Linked DNA regions of Homo sapiens: region 1 is linked to region 2. Evidence: fine-mapped expression QTL. A gene starts in region 2. The other region holds a variant in brackets. All regions are shown on one strand. Distances are from middle to middle.

Region 1 (8,000 bases), 46 kb before region 2:
TAAGGGGTGATCTTTTTCTTTAAAATGTTCAGAGTCTAGCGAAGACAGTCATGTATACAGTGTGGTAAGTGCTGTAACAATAATAGTGTAAGTGCTATGGGTCAGGGAGAAGGGAGTAAAGATAAGTTTCATGAAGGAAGGAGGTGGCATTTATGTTGTATTGTGAAGAACAAGAGTAATTTTCCAGGAAAAGAGGAGGGGAAGAATATTTGCCGAGATAAAATGGAACGTACAAAGCTTCTGTGAGTGCAGGCTTAGAGTGTGAAGCAATGACATGGGAGAAGGTGATGGGAATTGATGCTGGGAGTGTGAGTTGAGGACAGGCAGTGACAGGCCATGTAAATTTTGCCAGGAAGCTTGAATTTGATTCTCTAGGCCAGTGCTGTTTACTCTTGGAGTCTAGGGTTCCCCTGAAGTGCTCTAGGGCCCAAGAAGGTGGAGACCAAGAGAGATGAAAGCTAAAGTAGCTTTGCTTTTTTCTCTTTTATAAAGTGATCTTTGGGCAAGTTTTGTTGGGAGAAAATAGACTTTACTTCTTTGGGAAAGAAGTTGGAAACCTCTGGCAATGGGGAGTATGAGCCTTTTAAGGAGTAGAATGGCTGAGTTGAGCTCTGTGTAGAGACATCCTGGCAGCAAGTCAGAGGATGACTTGTGGAGTTGATGTGAGCATCTATTAGGAGGCTGCTACCATAGTTCTGATAAAAGTCAGAACTGAGGTACTAGCGAGGCTGATATAAATGATTTTGAAATGAGGGAGATAAGCTCAAGCAGGACCCCAGGTTTCTAGCTTGGGTGACCTCATCGATAAAGAACAGAGGAAGAAGAGCAGGCATGTCGAGGTGGAAGGAGAGGAAGCATTTGGTTTTGGACTTGATGGTGACGGAGTTCAGGACACCCTGCCCCCAAATATTTTAAGGTGACGGAATTTGAGGAAACTAAAGCAGCAGGAAGATCAGTCTCACCTTCCCCCGACCTTCTCCCCTGAAGTAGGTCATAAAACCAGGTAAGGATTTTCTGACCTTCCCCTGAAGCAGATCATAAGACCTTCATTCAAGAGGTGCCCTCCCTATTCCTGGAGGAAAGGAGCCAGAGACACAAAGATGCCAAGAAGAATCTGAACAAATCGGCCTTGCTAAGCTGCCTCACGATTAGATCATACCCTCTTTGTTGAATTCTATTTCTCCATGACTATCTAATTCATCCAACCTAGCATAAAACATACAAGTTTAACTGTTTCTTAGGGTCTTTGTTTCCTCACGAAGGCTCCTGTATTACATGTAAAACAAATAAACGTGTACGCTTTTCTCTTGTTAATCTGTCTTTTGTTATAGGGGCCTCAGTCATGAAGCTAGGATGGGTGAGAAATAGATATTTTTTCTCCCCTACACTGAGTTCTAATTATTCTATCTTTTTAAAAAGATACAACCCACTTTTATAGTTAAACCCATTTAATTCTGGGCTCTCTTCTGCTTAGGGGTTTCCCTAGAAATTACTGGAGGAAAAAGGAAGGTTTTTTCATCCAATTAGTAAGAAAGCAAGTGGTAGACTAGTGCCTCCCCAAGGTGGGGGAAGAACTTCAGTGGAAGGCAACCTTAGACATCATCTCACAGTCAGTGCCTTCTTATAATTCACAGCACATTGAAGAAGAGACTATAGGAGCAAAAACACCCTTGATAGAGGAAAACACTAACGATGCATCCTGATCTTGTTCTGACTTACCTCATTGATATAGTTTGGCTATGTCCCCACACAAATCTCATCTTGAATTGTAGTTCCCATAATTCCCAATTCATGGGAGTGACCCAGTGGGAGGTAATTGGATCATGGGGACAAATCTTTCCCGTGCTGTTCTAGTGATATTAAGTAAGTCTCACAAGATCTGATGGTTTTATAAAGGGGAGTTCCCCTGCACACGCTCTCTCTTGCCTGCCACCACATAAGACATCCCTTTGCTCTTCCTTCATCTTCCACCATGATTGTGAGGCCTCCCCAGCCATGTGGAACTGTGAGTTCATTAAACCTCTTTCCTTTATAAATTACCCAGTCTCGGGTATGTCTTTATTAGCAGCAGCATGAGAACAGGCTAATACACTCCTCTATTTAAAAACTCAGACATTTCTTGGATAATTTTATATAAATTATTTACAGTGTTTCAATGTTAAAGAATTCTTTCAAGAAAGAATTCTCCTTCCAAAGTTCCTTCTATTTGCTTTATTCTAGGGCCTAATCAAATTGCCTACTGTCTCACTAATATTTGTAATTTTTCAGAATTCTGAGGTTGCCTGAGATCTTTAGGTGGACATTTACATGGGACCTAGGCAGTACCTGACAGTGTGACAGAAAAGAAAACTTAACTGGACTCACCTGACTTTGCACCTCCCAGGGCTTGGTAATAGCAGACAAGTCACATGCCGTCATCATCATTGCCCTTAGGAAGAAAACAAAAAATTTTAAAATAGAAATAAGTACAAAATAAGTTATTTTTACAAAAAACAAGAGAGAAATACAATTTCAACTACCTACATGATAATCTCTTTCTTGGTTGGATCAACAGTTACATATTTGATGGCTTCTTCTTCCGTTTGCATTTGTTCACAGGCATCAACAATTTTTTGAAACATGGTCCTCTTCCTAGAAAAGATACAGCTGTGAGCAACAATTTTAGCTTATGAAAAGAGAGAAAAAATATCTTAAATACATGCTTTTCAGATTTCACGTTCCCACTTTGCATTGTGATGTCCACATAGCAAAGTCTACAGGGCCAGAAAATACGAGAGCAGAGAATGGTGGTATAACTTTGGCTCAGAAAGGGTTTAAGGCAGAAAAAGCACAAACCATACAGAGAGAGAGAGAGAGAGAGAGGGAAAAACAAAACAAAACAGGTAACTTGGAATACATTACAACGAAAAAGTTACATATAAGGCCGGGTGCAGTGGCTCACATCTATAATCCCAGCACTTTGGGAGACTAAGGTGGGAGGATTGCTTGAAGCCGGGAGTTTTAAACCAGCCTGGGCAACAAAGCAAGACCCTGTCTCTTTAAAAATGAAAGTAAATACAAAATTACATATGAGAAAAGAGACCATAACCTAAAAATAAAGGCCCCAAACTATGATAAGATATCACAACACATATAGCCAACAAAAAGTTGGAACCCAAAACACACGGATGTCCAGCTGGTCTCACTACTAATCAAGAAACTACAAATTTGAACAATAAGATATTATCTCACACTCATTATATTAGCAAAATAAAATTTCAATTTGCTGAGTTCAAGAGTACTTCAGATGTGGTATTTTTCTTTTTCTTTCTTTCTTTCTTTCTTTTCTTTTTCTTTTTCTTTTTTTTTTTTTTTTTTTTTTTGAGACAGAATCTTGCTCTACCACTCAGGCTGGAGTGAAATAGCTTGATCCTAGCTCACTGGAACCTTGAACTCCTAGGCTTAAGGGATCCTCCCACTTCAGCCTACCGAGTAGGTGGGACTACAGGCATGCTCCAGCATGCCTGGCTAATTTTTTAATTTTTTTGTAGAGACAGTCTTGCTATGTTGCCCAGGCTGGTCTCAAATTCCTGGCCTCAAGTGATCCTCCTGCCTTGGCCTCCCAAAGTGCTGAGATTACAGGCATGAGCCACCTCACTCAGCTGGAACTCTTG[C/T]ACACTGTGTGTGGGAGTGCTAACTGGCACAACTTCTCAGGAGTGCAGTTTTGTAATGTAGCATGAAATTGAAGACATGCAAATCCTACAGCATTGTCACTTTTACATTTCTTAGAGAAACTCTCATATATATATACAGGGACATACAAGGTAGCATTGTAGGCAATGATGAAAAATTAGAAACAATTGAAATGTCTATGAATAGAAGACTGGGTAAATTAATTATGAATATTCAACAGTTGAATACTCTATTCAGTTAAAATGGATGCATTGGAGCTCCATTTATTATCAATGATAAATCTTTGAAACACAATGTTGCATGAATAAAGCAAGTTGCAGAAAGGTATGTACAGACAGTATGATACCACCTATGGACAATTTGAAAACACACAACAGGTTGGGCGAGGTGGCTCACGCCTCTAATCCCAGCATTTTGGGAGGCCAAGGTGGGTGGATCACGAGGTCAGGAGATAGAGAGACCATCCTGGCCAACATGGTGAAACCCCATCTCTACTAAAATACAAAAAAAAAAAAAAAAAAAAAAAAAAAATTAGCCAGGCGTGGTGACGTGTGCCTGTAGTCCTAGCTACTCTGGAGGCTGAGGCAGAAGAATCACTTGAACCCAGGAGGCAGAGATTACAGTGAGCCGAGATTGCGCCACTGCACTCCAGCCTGGTGACAGAGTGAGACTCCGTCGCAAAAAAACCAAGAAACCAAACAAAAAAAACAACACACAACAATACCATATAAAAACATGGATGGAAATTATGAATACACATCAACGTCAGACGGTGATATCTTTGTGGAAGAAGGGAAGGGATTTTTCATAGTGGAGTAGGGGTGGAATACCTCAATTGCATCACTAGTTTTTTTCTCCTTATAAAGCAAAATCTGAGGCAAATATGGCAAAATTTCGCATTTGTTAAATTTAGGCTATAGATATTTGGATATCCATTTTATTATTCTTAGTATTTGTCTTCACATTGAACTATTTAATAATTAAATATTCAGGCCCAGTGCAACGGCTCACACCTGTAATCCCAGCACTTTGGGAGGGCCAGGTGGGCAGATCAGTTGAGGTCGGGAGTTCAAGACCAGCCTGGCCAACATGGTGAAACCCATCTCTACTAAAAATATAAAAATTAGCCAGATGTGGTGGTGGGAGACTGAAGTCCCAGCTACTCAGGAGGCTGAGGCAGGAGAATCGCTTGAACCTTGGAGGCCGAGATTGCAGTGACCCGAGGTTGTGCCACTGCACTCCAGCCCAGGTGACAGAGTGAGACCTGTATAATAATACATATAATAATAATAATAAATAATAAATAAATATTTAGTGAAGGATCAGAAAGGCATAATTTGACAATGCCCAAGCCACTGAATATTTCCATCCTATAACTAGTTCATCTTGTTCTAACCCATTTTCATCAAGCAACTTTATAGTTCACTTATGAGAAAATGTGGAGATACTGGGAGTATCTGGTCTCCTTGGCAATATTACTGTTGTAAATAGGCTGGCTCTCTGTTACGTATGACTCAGTTTTGTAAGTTTGGTTAATGTGTGTCAATGCCATCAAAATTGTTCAGCTCCCAGACTTTGACAGAATTAAATTTCTGAGGCTGAAACATTAAAATGCCAGATTCTGGACCATAGAGAATTCACCTGGACAAAAAGCCACCTTGAGAGGTCTCTTGGCTTCACTCTTTTGACAAGGCACAAACTTGGCTGCACATTCTGCAATTCAAACCTGTTCGGAGAGCAACCTACTTAATATTAGGAGCTTATGTTTTTAAAATATGTTCCCAGAGGTCTAGTAAATTTACTGGCAGGCATCTGTCTTGAAGATACTCTACTTGGTAATCCAAAAGGAGAGCAAATTTTGTGTGTATGTGTGTGTGTGTGTCTGTGTGTGTGTATGTGTGTGAATAAATGCCTTTTAACATTAATGCAACAGATAATTTATGGAAGGTAAAACCACACAGAGTATAGGGCATTCCACTGTGCAGAGTTATGTACTTACTTGAAATATAAAGCCAGGTCAGTTGCTATTATTGCGACCTCGAACAAATGAATAACTGTTTCAAACTGCCGCTTATTTAGGTTCTGGAAGATGTTTAAACTCTGTAAGATGAAAATTCACAATAAAATGCTATCAATAATTTGCCTCTGAACAAATGAAACTATGCTTAACAAGAAGAAAATCTAAAAGTCTTTCAACACTTTTTTGTTTGTTTTTTTTTTGTTTTCCTTCCTTTTTTTTTTTTTTTTTTGGCTTGCTTTTAGTTTTTATCTCATGGACTAAGCAAACCCCTCTACTATACTTTAAGTAAGATAATTTAATTTAAACTATAAAAATAGATACTGTTAGCCAATATTCATGTAATCAGTGTTTAACTTTTTGGAGTAAATAAATGTTTTCTTCTAGGACCATTAAAATAAATAACAATAGATTAAAAATGTGCTTGTATTAATTGAGAAGCTTTAATAAAGAATTTCTGGGAGAAGTCCAACTGTCAGACATGTTACTTTATCTACCAGGTAATTTTAGAGTGATCATAGAAACCACTGGTCTTTCAGAAATTGCAAATTACACTCATATTCGTGTATATGTAGGAAAAAATAATGAAATCCTTCCACATTATCCTGAAAATGTTTTCATGCAATTCTATTTTACCAAGACTTAACTAGACCTTTCTTCAAAGAGTTTCTCACTACATCTCTTCACATAAGGATCAGCTTCATTTCTTAGCATTCTAGAAAATGAGAATATAGGCCGAGCATGGTGGCTCATGCTTGTAGCACTTTGGGAGGCGGAGGTGGGTAGATGGCTTGAGCTCAGGAGTTCAAGACCAGCCTGGGCAACATGGTGAGACTCCTGTCTCTACTAAAAATATGGAAATACAAAAATAGCTGGGTGTGGTGGTATGTGCCTGGGGTCCCACCTACTCAGGAGGCCAAGGTGGTAGGATTGCTTAACGCTGGGGACTGGAGGTTGCAGTGAACTGAGACTGTGCCATTGCACTCCAGCTTGGGTGACAGAGAGAGACCCTGTTTCAAAAAAAAAAAAAAAGAAAGAAAGAAAGAAAGAAAGAAAGAAAGAAAGAAAGAAAGAAAGAAAGAAAGAAAGAAAATGAGTATATAAGCTGGGGGTGGTTTCTTAAAGCCCAGTTATTCCAAATAGACCATTTTAGTCATACAGGCCAAATGACAGATAGATAGTGATTTTGCCAAATGAATTTGACAGTTACAAAATACAGAAAAACTCCACTGGAAAGAAAGAGGAGATAGTCTATCAAACTATATAAAGAGAGAAGTAGCATAATGCCAAAAACAATACTGTCCTGAACACCAAATAATAACAGTAAACACTTACTTAGTTCTTACTACCTACCAGGCTCTAAGTGCTTTGTGAATATTCTTAATCTCTTCACAACAGACCCCAGCACAGAGAGGTGAAGTAACTTGCCCGAGGTTAAACAGCTAGAATGTGGCAGAACTGGTGTCTAAGCCAGTGCAGCATGGTTCCAGAGTCTGTGCTCCTAATCTCTGCACCACACTACATTACCTCTCAAGAGGGAACCCAGGTTCATTTCCTGGCTTCCCCACTTTGGCAGTGGTATAATCCTAGAGACTTCACTTAACATCTGTATTTGTTTTCTCATATGGGCATAATAACAGCTGCCCTGCCTAACTGCCTAGCACTTAGTCTATGCTCAATTAATATCTGTGGAATGCTGAATCAAATGAAATGACAACTGTGAATGCATTTTAAAACTGTAAATCGCTGTTAAAATTTATTGTTGTATCATTATTATTATTACGTAAAGTTATGAGGCTAGCTCCTGGTAGAAATAGAATTGCAAACCTAAGACCAAATATGGCTCAGTCATTTCAGAAGATTGAAATATTAGAAAGCAATAATTGGACAAGAACTCAAGTTTTAGACACTACACTATGCCTTATATAAATCTTCCCTTAAGTCATCTTTTTATAACATTTTCTAGGACAAGAAAAGTGGTGTTTTACAAAGCATATATAAGTAATAGAAGGGAAAATTGTGATTTGTTTTGTCAACATAATGAGTTCATCATAGCAACTATAGTTAAACTTTTAAAATAGCTAGAATGAAGCAATGGGTGTTGACCAGTCTAAATTACAAAAACAAAAGAGAGATTATCTGGATCAAAATCAATGTTTTTTTTTGTTTTTGTTTTTGTTTTTGTTTTTGTTTTTTTTTGAGATGGAGTCTCACTCTGTTGCCCAGGCTGGAGTGCAGTGGCACAATCTCAGCTCACTTCAGCCTCTGCCTCCTGGGTTCAAGCGATTCTCCTGCCTCAGCCTCCCAAATA
Region 2 (9,847 bases):
TGTTTAAATTGTCAAGTGCAATGAAAAGAGGAAGAATTAATCAGATATTTCATTTGAAACATTGGTTTCTACTTCCTTTCCCGTTGCAAATCTTACTGCAGCGGCTAAAGCAAGTGAAACTGCAGGGGTGTAAGGTAGGCAAACAGCACTGGACACATACTCAGCCACCTCCGTTCCAACCCTCCTCATCCACAGACACACACCATGGACCCGGGGGATATACAACTCCTATGGCCTCAACTTCCTGTCCTCCATAGGACAGAGTTGGGCTAAAGACTTCATAAGCCCCTTCCATCTCTAATATTCCACAGCTGATTTGAAATTCACTTCCTCCTCCTGTATCTGCTTACCCAAGAGACCAGTGGTTTTCAACATTGGCTGCATATTAGAAGTAGCTGGGGGAGCTTTTTAAAAATACCAATGCCTGGGCCGGGCGCAGTGGCTCACGCCTGTAATCCCAGCACTTTGAAAGTCCGAGACAGGTGGATCACCTGAGGTCAGGAGTTCAGTACCAGCCTGGCCAACATGGTGAAACCCCGTTTCTACTAAAAATACAAAAATTAGCCAGGCATAGTGGCGCACCTCTGTAGTCCCAGCTACTCAGGATGCTGAGGCAGGATAATTGCTTGAACCCGGGAGGCAGAGGTTGCAGTGAGCCAAGATAGCGCCATCGCACTCCAGCCTGGGTGATGGAGCAAGACTGTCTCAAAAATAAATAAATAATAAAATAAAAATACTAATGCCTGAATTCTAATCTTTGAGAGTCCGCTGTAACAATAAAGCCACCAATATGGTTTTGTGGATTGTGTTTATTTTTTGAGACAGGGTTTCATTCTGTCACCCAGGCTGGAGTGCAGTGTGTGAACACAGCTCACTGCAGCCTTGGCCTCCCAGACTCAGGCCATCCTCCCATCTCAACCTTCCAAGTAGCTGGGACTCCAGGCACACACCACCATGCCTGGCTTATTTTTGTATTTTTGGTAGAGACGGGGGTTTCCCATGTTGGCCAGCCTGGTCTCGAACTCCTGGGCTTAAGCCATCCACCCGCCGTGGCCTCCCAAAATGCTGGGATTACAGGCGTGAGCCACTGCACACAGCTTAATATGGTTTTAATGTACAGCCAGAGTTGGAATCCCCACTCTAGAGAGAAAAAAATGTGAAGAAGCAGTTGAAATGAAGAACCAATGAGGTCTCTTTCTCGTGAGCACAGAACCGTATCTGTCTTCAACACACATTTCTCTGTGTCCCACCCAGAACAGCCAGGAGTCCTCCAGAGAAGAGAGGAGAGACTCCCCACTCCCAGATGAAGTGCTCCGTCCATGCCGTGATGCTCACCATGGACAGCCGCAGACCAAAACCACCTCCAAGCAGCTCCATGCTCTTATTTCCTTCTCACCACAGAGAACTGGGCTAATCAAAGTATAACAGCAGAAATCATTTTACCCATCTCTTCTTTAAAAGCCTTTCAAAAAATTGCTGAATGTCACTTTTTCAAGTTTGATGTGCTAGCAGGGATGGGCTCAGTTGGGGACCCTCAAGGAGCGTATTCCCATGAGAAAAACCTCAGGATGTGCAGACATTGCCTTCCAGTTGGTTGTCTAGAGAACTTTGCCCTAAGGATGAGCATCCATTTAGACACTTGAAGCAGCTGCAGTCAGGCTCAAAAGCAAACTTAACCCAGCTTAAACTTACTGAAAGGAGGAATTATTCAGGACTGAAGCCCTACCAGGCCCCATGGTAACCCTTGCACCTGAGCGGTGTTCTGTGGTTGTTTGCAGAGAGTCACTCGTGTTTGATGACTTCCACACCTCTTGGGTCCGTGTGACCCTCCCCCTATAATCAGCTTCAGGAGGCATTTAGGAGATTATCCTCCTGCCTCTCCAGCTGCCCTATACACCCCTGCACAGAAAGCATTTCACAAGTTGTTCCCATTCAACTCTGTTCCATCATAATCCACTTTTCCCTTTTTGTTAATGGTAAACTGTAATAATGGACCACATGTGTAGAGAAGGAGCTGCCAGGAGAATCTCCAAGCTGGTACCCTTGATTATTGCTGAGGGGAGGGATGATGGGTGATTAGCATTTCCTCCTCTGGTTTATTTGTATCTTATAATTGTTTAAAAATGAACATGTACTCTAATGGTAAGAATAAAGTTTTTCTATTTCTATAAGGGGCATCTCAATGCCTTGTATTTGTGCAGTATGCTGTTGGTCTTCAAGAGGGTCCAAATGTCCCACTTACTTGATTGGAATTCATTCTTGAAAGATCTGGGTTATGGAGCAGTGGGAGTGGTCAATTGCACTTAACCATCACCTAAATTCACATATGTAATGAATTCCAAATTTGAACATCTGAACTTTCAAATGGCATCATTTTTTCTCTTTGCACATTTGGTCGATAGATGAAAGAATTGATTTACTAGCAAATCCATCCAAAAAACCTGAATGTTTTCGAAGGACTGTGAATGAGAGGCATGGGGAGCAGTTCACAAGTCTTGGCATCTGGGCACGTTGGCCCATCTCCCTAGTGGGGTAGTTTGTTTTGCTGGTGTTGCTGAGAAGGAAAGTCCCCCAGAGCACTGGAGGAGGCGTAAGGGAGGGTGTGTGGAATGCACCAGGGCCAGGTAGGATCACCTGATAAAATGCCAAACTTTACATGGGACATACTTATACTTCAGAAAATAATAATTCATTGTTTATCTGAAATTCAAGTTCAACTGGGCAACTTGAAATTTCATTTGCTAAATTTGGCAACACTAGGCCTGGGTGATCCTCTTCCCTGCCACCCACATTCCCCCGGTTATTGCCAAACTAATGCCACAAGGATAGCACTATCTCTCTTTCCCATTTGTTCCTCCCTGACCCTGCCAAGACCTCTGCCCCACTGTCATAAGGCCACCTACCTTTTTCACATCTGGGACATTATGAGTTTTCTTCGTGTGAGCAGCCCAACCCACTATCCCAATGTCCAATGGAAACACAACTTCTTTGTCAGGGCCCACCAGGTTGTCCTCAAACTTGGAGGTGGGGGTGACATCCAGCAACCTAGAGGCCACCTCAGGTATGCCGTTCCGGGACCGGCACAGGAACATGCTGCAGCGGTCAGCCTGGAGCAGGTGGGCCAGCCTCTGCAGGGCCCTGTGAACCCCCTGCTCTGGGGTGCCCCCCTCCTCCTGCACGGTCCACAGCAGCTCCAAGCACAGGGCTGACTCCTCCACCTGGGTCAGCTCAGAGAAGGACATGCTGGACTGGACTGGCACCTGGCTGTTCTTGAAGATTTCTCCCAGCACCTCCACCCGCAACTTCCTGTCAAAGTACTCCTTGGCAAACTGAGGGTTCTCCTCCAGGTATTTCTCCACGGCAACTTGGTTGATCTCACCCATGGTGTGGCTTGCTTTGCTGCGTTTGTTCAGAAAGGACGACCTTCAGAGCACTACCTGAGGCAGAGTGATGAGAAGGAAATTCATCCTGGTGGAAATTACTGAGGAAACCGTAAATGGTCCCTCATAGGACTTCCAAAGGTCAAGCAGAAAGCAGAGCTTTCAAACTGCCTGTAACTCTTGGGATGTGACAGAAGGCCCTGGCTTAGGGTGGGATTCAGGAAGCACAGGATTAAAGAGTTCTTCAGGACACTAAATCCCTGAGCATTAGTAGCTCATAAGTCCCTAGCGAATCTTCAGAGTATCTTAGATCAGCCCAGCAAGTAGCAAGCTGAGGTGTCTATTCCAGAAAAATAACTGAATGTCGGCTGCTGTCCACAGCAAGGAAGAATCACTGACATATCCATGAATGACACGACATTGGCAACAATTGGCACTTTGAATCGTTCTTGTATGATAGCTATAGGAAGTAAAACTATTTAGACCTCGGAAGTGCTTGGATTTTTTTTGTTTATATAGCAACTGTAATGAACATCTGGGAGATATGGAACAGTTTGCATCACTGCAACATAAAGGTGAATATTAATCTTTCCTTTTCTTAAAAGTCTTTTGATCACCAAGGTTGCTTGGCCTCCTCTTTCTCTAGAACCTTCACCTCTCAATCCCTGTCACTTCAGAAAGCTTGACCTCAGAAGTGTTTTAAAGGAGTAAACCTCAAGCTTATTACTAAAGAGGTGAACATAGCAAAATATTTGCCAATGATCCAAACCTAATCAAGTCATGAATTGAATAATAACCCTTGTCGAGAGACTGTAATTACAAAAGGTAACCTACATAGTTGCTGGCTGGGTTTTTCTGCTAAGTATCTTAGTTAGGATTTTGTTTTCAATAGTAATAGCCAGAGGTCATGCGATTTTGCTACAACATACAGTCTACTAAATCTACTAGATGATAGATATCTTGTCTGTTGCTAGGATCCTTAACGTCTCAGGGGCTACTGGCATAGAAAGAACACTTACCACTACTTAGTTTTGTTTAATGTTCACTTTACTAAGCTTTTACATCTATTAAACACATTTCCTCAAATATTTAAACACTATTATGCAACTAATAATTCAAACTATTAATTCATGAACCAATTGCCTTCGATACTTAAATGTTGGTTTCAAACTTAGTCAAGGTGTTTTAAACACTTCAATAAAGCTACAAACCTAATATGACAAATTCTCTTAAGTGGAAAACACACACATGTTACAGTGACTCTAAAAATTATTGTTACACCCACATTTAAGTTTGCTTCAAAAATAGAAACCCTATGAGTTTCATTGAGTTCTCTAAGATTTACCTCTCTAGATAGTAATCTTTTTCTTTTTTTTTTTTTTTTTTTTTGAGACTGAGTCTCGCTCTATTGCCAGGCTGGAGTGCAGTGGTGCGATCTCAGCTCACTGCAACCTCCGTCTCCTAGGTTCAAGTGATTCTCCTGCCTCAGCCTCCCGAGTAGCTGGGACTACAGGTGGGTGCCACCACGCCCAGCTAATTTTTGTATTTTTGGTAGAGATGGGGTTTCACCATGTTGGCCAGGCTAGTCTTGAACTCCCAACCTCAGGTGATCCACCTGTGTCAGCCTGAGAGATAGTAATCTTAATAGTCACAAAAGAAAGAGAGATCCGTTGAGGTTGCACATTCCCTGTCATGAATTGAGAGATTCTTGGTGGGAAACATGGTTTTCCCAGGGGTACAGAAAGAGTCATTTGTTGAGTTATGCCACTTCTTGTGATTGAGCTTCACCTGCTACCTCAAAGCACCTTGTCAGGTGCACATATTTTCTTGGACTGTCCTATGTCACACTCAACTCTACTCTCAGGAGGTTCCTCTTTGGGTGACTATTTACTTCATAACACCCTGTTATTATAAATAGGATAATGCAGAAGTGTATTTCCCAGGAGAGAGTTGAGTCAACTGAGTCACCCCTCCTATGGGACCATCTTCCTTATCTAACAATTTTGGACACTCTTTTTTACCTAGTTATTTTGTGTGACTCATGGTACAGTTCCTACTTCTCCTGTAAGTATGTGGTGTGCTCACGATTTCCTGGTTTCATCCTTCCCTCTTGAAACAGAGAGGGAAAAACACATATTTGCATTTCATATACAGACTTATACTTAATAGAAAAAGAAAAAACAAAATGCCCATATATGTTCAACTTTCATAATCTTTTTTTTTTTTTTTTTGAGACAGAGTCTTGCTCTATTGCCCAGGCTAGAGTGCAGTGGTGCGATCTCGGCTCACTGCAACCTCTGCCTCCTGGGTTCATGCCATTCTCCTGCCTCAGCCTCCCGAGTAGCTGGGACTACAGGCTCCTGCCACCATGCCCGGCTAATTTTTTGTATTTTTAGTAGAGACGGGGTTTCACTGTGTTAGCCAGGATGATCTTGATCTCCTGACCTCGTGATCCACCCGCCTCGGCCTCCCAAAGTGCTGGGATTACAGGTATGAGCCACCGTGCCCGGCCCATCTTTCATAATCTTATAAAAGTGAATATTAATTTGAAAAAGAAACATCCTATTATAGTCAGCATTCTTTTGTTTTTATAACTAGTTAGAGATTCATTCATTTGTTCATTCTTTCTTTCTTTTTTGTTTTTTTGAGATGGAGTCTCCCTCTATTGCCCAGGCGCGATCTTGGCTTACTGCAACCTCCGCCTCCCGGGTTCAAGCGAATCTCTTGCCTCAGCCTCCGGAGTAGCTGGGATTACAGGTGCATGCCACCATACCTGGCTAATTTTTTTGTATTTTTAGTAGAGACAAGGTTTCACCATGTTGGCCAGGCTGGTCTCGAACTCTTTAGGTAATCTGCCCTCCTTGGCCTCCCAAAGTGCTGGGATTACAGGTGTGAGCCACTTCACCTGGCCTCATTTGTTCATTCTTTCAACATTTGTCTATTGATTGTCTGTTACAAGCAAGGCACCATTCTAGCTATTGTGATAGAGACTTCAAGTTCCCCTTATATTATATGATTGTTTCCTTCTCCCAGTTACATGGGAAGATTACTCTTCCTCCCTCTGGTACAGCCATGTGACTGATTTTAACAAATGGTTTGTGGGCAGAAATATCACTTTCAGACAGGAACAATTAATTGCCAACGGGAGGCTCTCCAGGTCTCTGTTCCCTCTGCTGCCACATCAGTTTCAGATGAAAGGGCCCCTGAATCCCAGAGTGAGGATGTCATGTAACAGAGGCCCCTGGATGACCCGAGATGGACATGTAGCATGATGAGAAATAAACTTGTCTTGTTTTCAGCCTCGGAGACCTGAGGGTTGTTGTTACTGCAGCATCACCAAGACAATTCTGACAGTTACACTTCTACTGTCGGGGACTCAGGGGGTGGTCCCAGCATTACAAGCACTTGTGGTGTGGGAAGGGAGGTAAGACTAGTGCGTAAAAAGCCCATGAGACATAGAACAGAATACAATTAATGCTGGAAGTGAGGCACATGTACATGGCTATCGGAGTTCACGAAAGGGATCATATCTAGTGTGGCTGAAGACAGGGTAGAAATCAAGAGTGTTCAGAAGCAATAGCATGGGGTGTAGGGTAATACAGGGAGGACAGTGAGAGGTGACCCTGAAAAGGTGGGCCGGGCCCAGATTAGAAGGGCTTCAAAGCCTAGACTGAGGATTTTGAATCCTGGACAATTTTTGAAGTGGGAGGCAACATTATTAGTGTTCTTCTTTACAAACTTAAGGAGGAAGATAAGTTGGAGGAAAACAGAATACTGGACATTGGGATACAGATTAAGATACTTTATTGCATTTGGCTTATTATCAAACAACCTAAAAATGTGTATAGGCTTTGACCCCACAATTCTGCTTTTATGAATTCATCTTAGAGAAATAATTAAGAATGTATGTGATTAATATAGTTGCAAGGGTGCTTACCATGAGTGTGGGTATAAAAGTAAAAGATCAGAAATAGCCTAGACACTTAATAGTAGGAGGTTGAGTAAATAAATGGTATTAGATCTGTAAAATAGAAAGCTACGCAGCTATTAGGTTGGTACAAAAATAATAGCGATTTTCCCCATTACTTTTAGTGGCAAAAACCGCAATTACTTTTGTACCAACCTAATAATATTGTTAAAGTCTATTGACATGAAAAAATATTTATGATATGCAGTTAATTACAAACAGTATTGCAGCATAATTCCATTAATATGCACAGACAGAGGTATATATACCAAAATATTAAGTGAAATTATTTCAAGGCAGGACACAGTGGCTCATGCCTATAATCCCAGCACTTTGGGAGGCCGAGACAGGCAAATTACTTGAACTCAGGAGTCTGACAGCAGCCTAGGCAACATGGTGAAACCCCGCCCTACAAAAAATTACAAAAATTAGCTGGGCTTGGTGGCACATGCCTGTAGTCTCAGCTGAGACTGGGACTGAGATGGGGGGATGGCTTGAGATCAGGAGGTAGAGGCTGCAGGGAGCTGTGATCGCACCACCGCACTCCAACCTGGGCGACTGAACAAGAACCTATCTCAGAAAAAAAAAGTTATTTCAAAGTGGTGGGATTCAAGACATTAATTTTTTTCTTCTTTTTTGCTTACCTGATTTTTGTAAAGCATCTACAATGAACATATATACTTTATGTAATAAAGAAATTAAGTCATTCATAAACAAAGATTTTGAGGTTATCTCTGCAGTCTATGGGTGAAGTTGCTTGGGAATGAAAAAGAAAAGGACAAATGTGAGACACAATCCAGCAAATGTGTCATGACAATTGACAGGACGAGGCAATTGATTAGTTAGAAAAAGCACACAAGAGAAGGGGTCACTGTTAACTACTTTGAGTGTTGAGCGAAGTTATGGACTGAACGTTTGTATTCCCCTAAAACTCATCTGTTGAAATCCTAACCTCTAATGTGATGGTATTAGACGGTATGGCCTTCAGGATGTGACTAGGTCATGAGGATGGAACCCTCACAAGTGGTATTAGTGCCCTTATTAAAGGGCCCCCAGAGAGCTCTCCAGCCCTCTTTCTTCCATGTGAGGATACCAGGAGAAGATGGCTGTCTGTGACCTGGAAGAGGAAGATGGCCATCACTGAACCTGACCATGCTGGCACCCTGACCTCAGACCTCCAGCTTCCAGAACTATGAGCCACTCCTTCTATGACACTTTGTTATAGCCACCTGAACTAAGACAAATGACATTTTATCAAAGATTTTTAAATGGGTAATATTAGAAGCCTCCTTTTAGCACACACACCAATAGCCTTTTCTTTCTTTCTTGTTCTTGATGAAGTCCTGTGATTTCCATAGCTCTTCCTCTTGGGATAGTTCTTTGCAGAGCTTCTTGCCAGTGTTAGCAAGATCTTTGTGTCTCTTATTGGCTGTCTGCTACTAGGCACTGAAAAAAACAAAATCAATTTCAGAAAATAACATATTTTATTTTTTAAAATGTCTGATTCAGGTGGTACACGTGTAGGTTTTTATATGGGTATATTGCATGATGCTGAGGTTTGAGCTTCAGTTGAACCCATCACCCAGATAGGGAGCATAGTACTCAATACGTAGTTTTTCAACCCTTTCCTTTGTCCTTGTGGAGGCCCCAGTGCCTATTGTTCCCATCATTGTGTCCATGTATACTCAATGTTTAGCTCTCACTTATAAGTAAGAACATGTGGTATTTGGTTTTCTGTTCCTGCATTAATTCACTTAGGATAATGGCCTCCAGCTGCATCCATGTTGCTGCATAGGACATGATTTTGTTTTTTGTATGGCTGCATAGTATTCCATTGGTGCATATGTACCACATTTTCTTTACCCAGTTCACCGCTGATGGGCACCTGGGTTGATTCCATGTCTTTGCTATTGTGAATAGTGCTGTGATAAACTTGTGAGTGCAGGTGTCTTTTAGGTAGCATGATCTATTTTCTTTTGGGTTTCTACTGGATAGACACCCAGTAATGGGATTGCTGGGTCAAATGGGAGTTCTATTGTTAGTTCTTTGAGAAATCTCAACACTGTTTTCCGGAGGGACTGAACCAATTTACAATCCCACCAACAGCATATGAGTGTTCCTTTTTCTCCACAACCTTACCAACATCTGCTATTTTTTGACTTTTTAATAACAGCCATACTGTCTGGTGCGAAAGGTTTTGATTTGCATTTCTCTAATGATTAGTGATGTTGAACATTTTTTCATATGTTTGTTGGCTGCTTGTATGTCTTCTTTTGAGAAATACCTGTCCCTGTCCTTTGCCCACTTTTTAATGGGGTAATTTGTTTTCTTCTTGTTGATTTGTTTTTTATAGATTCTAGATATTAGTCCTTTGTCAGATGCATAGTTTGCTAATATTTTCTCCCATTTCGTAGAGTGTCTGTTTACTCTGTTGATAGTGTCTTTTGCTGTGCAGAAGCTCTTTAGTTTAATTAGGTCCCACGTGTCAATTTTTGTTTTT

Direction of the effects. Positions count from the first base shown, and alleles are read on the strand shown. Sizes are in standard deviations (SD) of each study's normalised expression.
For the expression in subcutaneous fat of the gene that starts at base 3,572 in region 2, T is the high allele of the variant in region 1 and C is the other (small effect, 0.24 SD a copy in GTEx).

Evidence for each region. PIP is the estimated chance that this variant, and not a neighbour inherited with it, causes the effect.
Region 1: its variant is the best candidate, but not a certain one, in a credible set for the expression of PDE6C in subcutaneous fat (GTEx, PIP 0.80).

Annotation. Positions count from the first base shown.
Region 1 is chr10:93,653,532-93,661,531 of GRCh38, reverse strand. PDE6C (phosphodiesterase 6C) reads right to left here. Exons shown (of 22, transcript NM_006204.4): 16 at 5,672-5,772; 17 at 2,524-2,631; 18 at 2,365-2,428. Among named protein-coding and RNA genes, the nearest start is that of PDE6C, 45 kb to the right of the region's middle. The variant C/T (reference allele first, on the strand shown) is at 3,654.
Region 2 is chr10:93,606,262-93,616,108 of GRCh38, reverse strand. It overlaps PDE6C (phosphodiesterase 6C), which reads right to left and starts at 3,572. Exons shown (of 22, transcript NM_006204.4): 1 at 2,904-3,572. The coding sequence starts at 3,383.